Linked DNA regions of Homo sapiens: all the other regions are linked to region 2. Evidence: fine-mapped expression QTL. A gene starts in region 2. Each other region holds a variant in brackets. All regions are shown on one strand. Distances are from middle to middle.

Region 1 (2,761 bases), 28 kb before region 2:
TGTAACGGCAAATGAAAGAATACAAGAACACCAGGGTTGGTTCTCACTCTACTTCTCTATGTGGATAAAGTCATCTCAGCTACTTCCATTTCTTAAATATATCTTTATGCTGATGACTCCCAAATTTACATTTCCAGCCCTAAGATCAAACACAGCTGAGTCCTTGATATCTACTTCTGGATGTCTAATAAGCATCTCAAATTCAGTATGACTGAAGTAGAGTCATGATTCATTCACTTCAACTCCACTCACCACAATCCTCCCCATCTCAGTAAGTAGTTACATGATCCACCCCGTTGATCAGACATCCTATATTCTTCTCCTTTCCTTCTATTCTCGAACCTTCTGCTGTGACAATACATTGCCATGTCCTATTGTCTCTTCCTCTAAAGTATATCCCAAGTGCAACCACATCTTACCTGTTTAATTGCCACCATCTTAGGTTTAGTCACTGATTTAGTCTACTCAGGCTGCTATAACAAAATATCATAGACTGAATAGCTTGTAAACAACAGAAATTTATTTCTCACGGTTCTGGAGGCTGAAAAGATTAAGATTAAGGCATTGGCAGATTCAATATCTGGTGAGAGCTTGCTTTCCGGTTTATAGATGATGCCTTCTTCCCATGTTGTCACATGGTAGAAAAGGTGATGAATCTCTCTCAGGCTTTTCTATAAGGGCATTCATGTAGCCTCCATCTGCATGACCTAATCACCTCCCGAAGGCCCTACCTCCTAACACTGTCTCGTTGGGGATTAGGTTTCAACAAAGGAATTTTGGGGGCACAGAAACATTCAGACCATAGTTATCACCATCATTTCTCATCTGGATACTTCAATAGTTTCCACTTTTTCCTTCTTTCCCCGTAGTTGACTCTCCAGTGGCAGCTGAAGTGACTTATGGAAAAGTAAAACAGATAATATTGCTCCCTTATTTTAAATCCTCCAATGGATTCCAATTGAAATTAGAATAAATCTGAAATCTTTACAATGATCCATGAAACCCAACACTATCTGGCTCCTGTCTCCCTCACTGACCTCTCAGTTTACTTCGTCTTGTTCACTACCTCCATTCATTACAACCTCTTTCATATATTATTTCATAGGTAGAGATGGGGTTTTGCCATGTTGTCCAGGCTGGTCTTGAACTCCTGACCTTAAGTGATCCTCTCATCTTTGCCTCCTAAAGTGCTGGAATTACAGGAATAAGCCACTGTATCCCACCTATATTTTACACACTCACACT[C/T]CTTTCCCTCCTTTTACTTGCTTTTTTGTCTGCCTGGAGTTTCTTCCCCAGTTTTTTAAAACACCTGATTTCATTTTGTCTTAGCTCAATGCCATCTTCTAAGAGAATCCTTCCCCAACCCACTTTTGATGTAGTCCTTCATACCTCCAGCACCTCCAATCACTTTCTATCATACTGCCCTATATTATTTTTATAGCCCTCATCAATCTATTAAATTACCCTATTTGTTTATTTACTTGCTTATTGTTTGTTACCCTCCACTAGAATTTAAATGCCATGAGCCCAGGAATTTTCTTTATCTTTTTTATCACTATAGCCTTAGCACCTCGAACTGTGCTTAATATATAATAGGTGCAAAGTAAGTATTTCTTGAATGAATGACTGAAAACAAGCCTTTCTTTTTTTTTACTTTTTTATTTTTGAAACAGAGTCTCACTCTGTCACCCAGGTTGGAGTGCAGTGGTGCAATTTCGGCTCACTGCAACCTCTGCCTCCGAGGTTCAAGCGATTCTCCTGCCTCAGCCTGCCAAGTAGCTGGGATTACAGGCATGCTTCACCATGCCTGGCTAAATTTTGTATTTTCAGTAGAGACGGTTTTGCCATGTTGGCCAAGCTGGTCTCAAACTTCTGATCTCAAGTGATCCGCCCGCCCCTGCCTCCCAAATTGCTGGGATTACAGGCGTGAACCACCACGCCCAGCCAAAAACTTAAACCTTTCAAAGTCTCTGACAATTCATCTAGAATTTTTTAGGAGGTTATTCAAATTGAAAACGAAACCAACCCTAGTATTTTAAGTTGGGCTTCTTGGGAAGCAGTCTTGGAAACTGAGATTAGCATGCAGAAAGTTTATTGTGAAAGACTCCTGGGATTCACACCAGTGGAGAAAAAGGCAATAAAGCGGTATTGGGCAGAGGATAAAGTTTGGATGTGACGCAGAGTCTCACTCTGTCACGCCAGGAGTGCAATGGCGTGATCTTGGCTCACCGCAACCTCCACCTCCCAGGTTCAAGCGATTCTTCCGCCTTAGCCTCCTGAGTAGTTGGGATTACAGGCATGCGCCACCACGCCCAGCTAATTTTGTATTTTAAGTAGAGAGAGGGTCTCTTCCATGTTGGTCTGGCTGGTCTCAAACTCCCGACCTCAGGTGATCCGCCCGCCTCAGCCTCCCAAAATCCTGGGATTACAGGCGTGAGCCACCGCACCTGGCCAGTGAGGTTATTTTTAAAAAGCCTAAGCTGACTCCAAAGGGAACTCTGAAGCTGGGATACAGCCCTCTCAATTTGGCCCAGATTATGGTATACATTCCCATAATGATCAGTCATTAGACACAGGCTATCCTGGGGGAGGGAATGTGCCCTAGAGTGAGGTAGCTCTCCAGATGAGGAAATTCTTGGAGAGGCTGACAACTGAGGGCTATCTGCTGACAGCACTCCTTGCAAATGCTGAGGAAATCAGTCCTTCATTCTTGAAGGAGGTCTGGGTGGCACGTTCCAGGATCTATTACAGTCCAATCTTT
Region 2 (2,761 bases):
ACCAGCCTGGCCAGCATGGCGACACCTCGTCTCTACGTCTCTACTAAAAATACCAAAATTAGCCGGGCGCGTAGCCGGGCGTGGTGGCGGGCGCTTATAATCCCAGCTAGGAGGGAGGCTGAGGCAGGAGAATGGCTTAAACCCGGGAGGCGGAGGTTGCAGTGAGCTGAGATTGCACCACTGTCCTCCAGCCTGGGCGACAGAGCAAGACTGTCTCAAAACAAACACACAAACCCCTCATCAGTTGCAATATTTAAGTTGCATTTAATCCTAGCAATTGCAGTCCTGAGATTTGGATAAGAACCAGAGTATGGTCTTCCAGGGCAGCCAAACCAAGCCATTCCATGAACAACAGAGATCACCCTGCTGCAGATGGTCCACAGATCTTTTCTTGTGCATTTCTTCTGGGAACAAATGCAACTGAGGAAGCAGACATATTCTAGGGGGAGAGATCCACAAAAATCCTTAGAGTCATCTTGCCCCACCTCCTTGTTATGGCTTTAGGTACAGCCCTTATGGCTAGGAGATGTAACCTTCCTCAGCCTTTGCGTCTACGTCTACAAAATAACAACTACCTTGCAGGGTGTTATTTAACACTGCGAAAGTGCATTAATAGGCACAGAAAAACAAAAAACAAAAAAGCAAATTGTGCCCTCACTGCGAATTCTCTGTATTCTAGTTAAAAACATCTATAGCTTGGGTGCATGGTGTCCGTGCTGGGCAAGAAAAGGGCAAAATAGATCATGACAAGCCTTAACATTTTCTCACTTCAGTTTCCTCACTGCAATTGATTTTTTTTTTTCTTTCAAGTCGGAGTCTTGTTCTGTCGTCCAGGCTGGAGTGCACTGGTGTGATCTCGTCTCACCGCAACCTCCGCCTCCCAGGTTCAAGCGATTCTCCTGCCTCAGCCTACCGAGTAGCTGGGATTACAGGCGTACGCCACCACGCCCAGCTAATTTTTGTATTTTTAGTAGAGACGGGGTTTCACCGTGTTGGCCAGGCTGGTCTCGAACTCCTGACCTCGTGATCCACCCGCCTCGGTCTCCCAAAGCGTTGGGATTACAGGCGTGAACCATCGCGCGGCCCCTCACTGCAACTGAGGGTAGCGCAGTGGCCGCAAGTTCCAGATCTGGAGTTACTAAATAGCTGGGTTCCAATCCCGGCTCTGCCACTTATTAGCTGTACGATCTTCATTCGTTTCTCAACCTCTCTGGGTCTGAGATTCCCTTAAAGCCGGGGTAATAGAAATGAATAGGATTTCCTAACTAGGACTAGACTTTCTCAATTTCTTGACTCAGAGGGGCAAGGATAGCCTGAAATGGAAAGTGAAGGCCTTCAGGTTCTTCCTAACAGCCGCTCCGAGGAGGGGAAAGCTACAGGAAGAGGGAGGAGACCCAAGAAAGGTCGGACCAATGAGGCAGCGGGCGGGACAGGAGTTCCCGCCTTTGGGCGTCGTGCGCGCGCACCTCGCTCACACGCACACTCGCACGCACGCACGCTGCGGAAGCGCGCGCGCGCGCAGGCCCAGCCCTCGTCGCCGCCGCCATTTTAGCTGTTGGTTCCGGCCGCACCGTGTGGGCTGTAGTAGCGGGAGGGGTGGGGGTCCTCCAGAGTTAAGTGGCTGTCCTCGACTGTGCCCATACAGCAGCCAGCTTTCTTCCTTAATAACTGCCCGTTCGAAGAGTGCGAGGATGTCCAAGCGGCACCGGTTGGACCTAGGGGAGGATTACCCCTCTGGCAAGAAGCGTGCGGGGACCGATGGGTAAGCCAGGCCGGGGGCGCGAGGCGGCAGCTCGGGCTTTGTTGGGGTCCTGGCAGGGAGCGGGCCGGGGCTGGCCTGGCCGAGCGGGTCCTGGAGCCCGAGCCTTTGTTTCTCTCTGGGCTGGGTTCACTAGCGGCGGGTAGGAGAAGCGCGGCGCCCGTTCGGCCCGGCAAGGGCGCGGGGGGTTGCGTGCGACGGGGCCGCTGCCCAGCCCAGTCCGGAGGGTGGAGAGGCCTGCAGTAGCCATGAGGGCGCCTCCTCCCCCAGGCCGAACCGAGCGGGAGTCATTTGCGAGGGCGTCGGGCGGGAGTGAACCGCGGACCTCGTGGCCTCGGTTCCCGAGGAAGGCCTGGAGCCGGAGGAGAGGGTGGGGGAGGGCGCGGTGGGAGTATTCGCTTCCAAGGGCAGCAGGCACTTCCCAGCCAGAGGGGCCGTGGGGAGGGCCTGGGTGGGGGCGCGGCCAGGCACTCCAGACGGGAAAGGCGGAGGGCGGAAAGTGAGAGCAGCGCGTGGATCATAATGTAGGCTGGGATGGGGGTGGCGGGAGTTGAGAGAAGCCAGCAAATAGGGAGTTCTCGGGGGAGGTGGGAGTAGAGGACCTGCCGGGAGAAAGGAAAACGTGGAGTAATATACCTGATGGGCTGGAAGGCTGGTGTTTTGGGGCGACTGAGTTTATAGTTTGGCGGGAGAGAGCGTGCCTTGGTCCATTCAAACACTTCAAAGTAGATACTAGCAAACTTCCGCTCTCTGCCTACGCTCCCGCCATCTCCTGTATTTCCTGCTTTGGTTAAAACTGGTTACTGAACATCGTCCCATGGGGAGGGATTAGAAGGCATTGTTTTTTTTTTTCATCATTTATTTTCTATGCATGTCCCACTTTTCTTCATAAGTAGCTTTTGAAATACAGGGATCATGTTCAAAACGTGTTTTTAGTATTTATGGCGAAACACCGCCCATGTGGAGGTTGAGAGTTGAAATACTTACACAAACTCTTGGTGT
Region 3 (2,761 bases), 100 kb before region 2:
CCACTGGGCTTGTTGGTCACACCAGCTGCGCTTCCCAAAGCTCATTCCTTCCCGGCCTGTACCGACAAATTGCATTGATTTGCAAAACAGACAACTCTGCAATTGCCTGAGTACATTTAATCTTTTCAAATTAAGCCAACTTCACATTCGGCATACCATATGGAATTCTTCAGGGTGTTTATAAACACAGTTACTCTTAAGCCCTGGTCCACCCTGCTTAAACTGTAGCAAAAATAGTCCAGAGAGCCAAAAACATCCAGATTGAAGGGATGATCTGCCACCAGGCCAAATCCTTTCAAAGGTGGAAAAGATGTTAGGCATCATCTGGTCTAAAGGCTGTATCCTGGAGGCCATGGGCTGAATTCGGCACACAGATGTGTTGAGTTTGGCTCACGCTGCGTTTCTGAAAAATTTTGTGTCAACATTTAAGAATTGAAAGATTTCACATAAAAATCCAGACTTCCCGCATCTTACCAAAAAAAAAAAAAACTGGAAATGTGACCACACTGAGCGCTCATTCCTACGTAATAACAGGTAAAGATGGGTAGTAGCTTCTCTCTCTGCCAGGGGGCGCCCTTTCCCGCCTGCTTTTCCGTTTTCCCCACTCCCTATCGTCTTAGGCGATCTGCATCGCTCATTTTCAATATTTGCCTGATCCTTGTAGGCATTTGGGTTTGCCATCCTTATCTAAGTCAAGGCACTTATTTTACAGAGGATGAAACTGAATCCCAGAATCCAAAATTGACTTACCTAAGGTCACATAACTGGCAAGTGACAGAGTCAGGATTTGATTCATGGGCGTAGTGGGAACAGCGGGACAGACACCAGGGTCAGGAGGCTAAGGGGGGTAATGAGAGCACAAGGCTGTTCCTAAACCCAGGAATTTCCAGAGGTTCCAGACAAGACCTTGGACTTACTTCCCGGGCCATAGAATTGGGTGTGTGGAGGATGGAGGAAGACAAACCAGTTCCCTAGATTTTGAGAGCCAGAGAGATGACAGATGACTTCAGGGTTAGAGAAGGCAAGATATTTGACCCTTGGCCTTGGGCTCGTTGCAGATGTTCATTTGCTTGTTCATGCATCAAACTTTTATTGTCTGTTGCCTTTCAAGAACTACTTTAGGCTCTGGGGAGACAAAGGATTAAATCTTGATTCTGATACTCAAGGAGATTACAACACAGCAGAGGAAAACAGACAAGTAAGCAGATGAATAAGCAGATGAATAATTTTTTTCTTTTTTTTTTTTGAGACAGGGCCTAGCTCTGTCGCCCAGGCTGGAGTACAGTGGTGAGATTTCAGCTCACTGCAGCCTCGACCTTCCTGGATCAAGCAGTCCTCCTGCCTCAGCCTCCCGAGTAGCTGGGACTGCAGGTGTGCCCCACCACCCCCAGCCAATTCTTGTATTTTTTGTAGAAACGG[G/A]GTCTCACCATGCTGCCCAGGCTGGTCTACCAAGCCTTCTCAAGCCATCTGCCCACCTCCCAAAGTGCTGGGATTACAGGCGTGAGCCACCACGCCTGGCCTGTAAGCAGATGCATTTTTAACACCCCTTCCTTCCCGCTCTCTTCTGGTCAGATCTATAGGCAGAAGGCAGTACCAGGCCGTGGTTAAGGCTGACTTAACAGACTTGGACTCAAATGCTGGTCCTGCCCCTTCCTAGCTTGGGAAAAGCCTCACCCCTCTAAGCCTCAGTTTTTACATCCATTTAAAGTCATCAAATGCCTACCTCGTGGAATTCTTATGAGGAAACATTTGAAAAGCTCCTTGCACAGAGCAAGCATTCAATAATTAGTAGTTACTCTTTTTCTAGAATGCTTTCCTCCCCTCCTGTTACTACTTTTTCTTTTCTTCTTTTCTCTCTTTCATTTTTTTCTCTCTCTGATCTTTTCCAGACATTTGTTTATATTTTGAGATTTCCAAATATTTTCTAGTATCACAGGTAACTGCACTGGGTGATGGCCACGCCTCATAAGGAAAAGTGCCGGTGCTTATTAAAATAAACCCACACGGCCTTGACTCACCAGGGGCGCATTGTTTGCATTACCTTTTTGAAGGACAGAAAATTACTAAAGAGCGAAGCATTAATTATCTGGTCCCTTATTTGCATACAGCATCTCGGTTGAGAGTCCTGCTTTGGGATTCTCACTTCTGGGCCTTGAGCATTCCAGATTCAAAGGTAAAACCAAGGACCAAGAGCCAGAAAATCTTAGATTTTAATCCCAGGACAAATGCTGTTTCCCTTGTTGGCCACAGGCAAATTACCTCCCCCTCCTCACTTTCCCCACCAGCAATGTGGAAATCAATTATTTCCTTGACTCACTCGAGGGCTGAGAGACTTAATTAAGCTTTTGGAAGCTGGTTGTTAGTTAACCTAATTCTCTTTGTAAACTAACCATTCTTTGCTCTCCTGATCACATCTCCCAAACTTTTCATAAATTGGTCCCCCTTTCCTAAAGCTAGAATCCAAGATGACTCTTATTTTTCACTCATCCACTCCTATATATTTTTAAATTATACTGTTATCCCTTTCTCATAAACAGATCCAGGGTAGAAAAATTCTCATAAAGACAGAGCACCTCAGGGATGACCAAGATCCCAGAGGTGCTGGAGAGAGGACTTCCCTTTCCAGGAAGAAAGTGTTATCTTTGACCTTGAAGATGGGGAACCGTCTTGGGCCCTCTGGTCCTTGTGGGAGCCTTAAGGAGAATTGTAGAGTAGGTTAAACTTGCTTATTTTGCAGTGTGATATCTTGGAAGGAGCAAGA

Which allele goes with the higher level. Positions count from the first base shown, and alleles are read on the strand shown. Sizes are in standard deviations (SD) of each study's normalised expression. Not every link is listed here.
For the expression in sun-exposed skin of the gene that starts at base 1,531 in region 2, A is the high allele of the variant in region 3 and G is the other (small effect, 0.26 SD a copy in GTEx).

What was found. PIP is the estimated chance that this variant, and not a neighbour inherited with it, causes the effect.
Region 1: its variant is the best candidate, but not a certain one, in a credible set for the expression of DHX15 in whole blood (TOPMed, PIP 0.55).
Region 3: its variant is the best candidate, but not a certain one, in a credible set for the expression of DHX15 in sun-exposed skin (GTEx, PIP 0.54).

What each region holds. Positions count from the first base shown.
Region 1 is chr4:24,611,146-24,613,906 of GRCh38, reverse strand. No RefSeq gene overlaps it. Among named protein-coding and RNA genes, the nearest start is that of DHX15, 28 kb to the right of the region's middle. The variant C/T (reference allele first, on the strand shown) is at 1,246.
Region 2 is chr4:24,583,324-24,586,084 of GRCh38, reverse strand. DHX15 (DEAH-box helicase 15) reads left to right here and starts at 1,531. Exons shown (of 14, transcript NM_001358.3): 1 at 1,531-1,762. The coding sequence starts at 1,692. RefSeq lists an enhancer at 1,093-1,632 and silencers at 1,813-1,932, 1,943-2,022, 2,223-2,272.
Region 3 is chr4:24,685,363-24,688,123 of GRCh38, reverse strand. No RefSeq gene overlaps it. Among named protein-coding and RNA genes, the nearest start is that of LINC02473, 27 kb to the right of the region's middle. The variant G/A (reference allele first, on the strand shown) is at 1,420.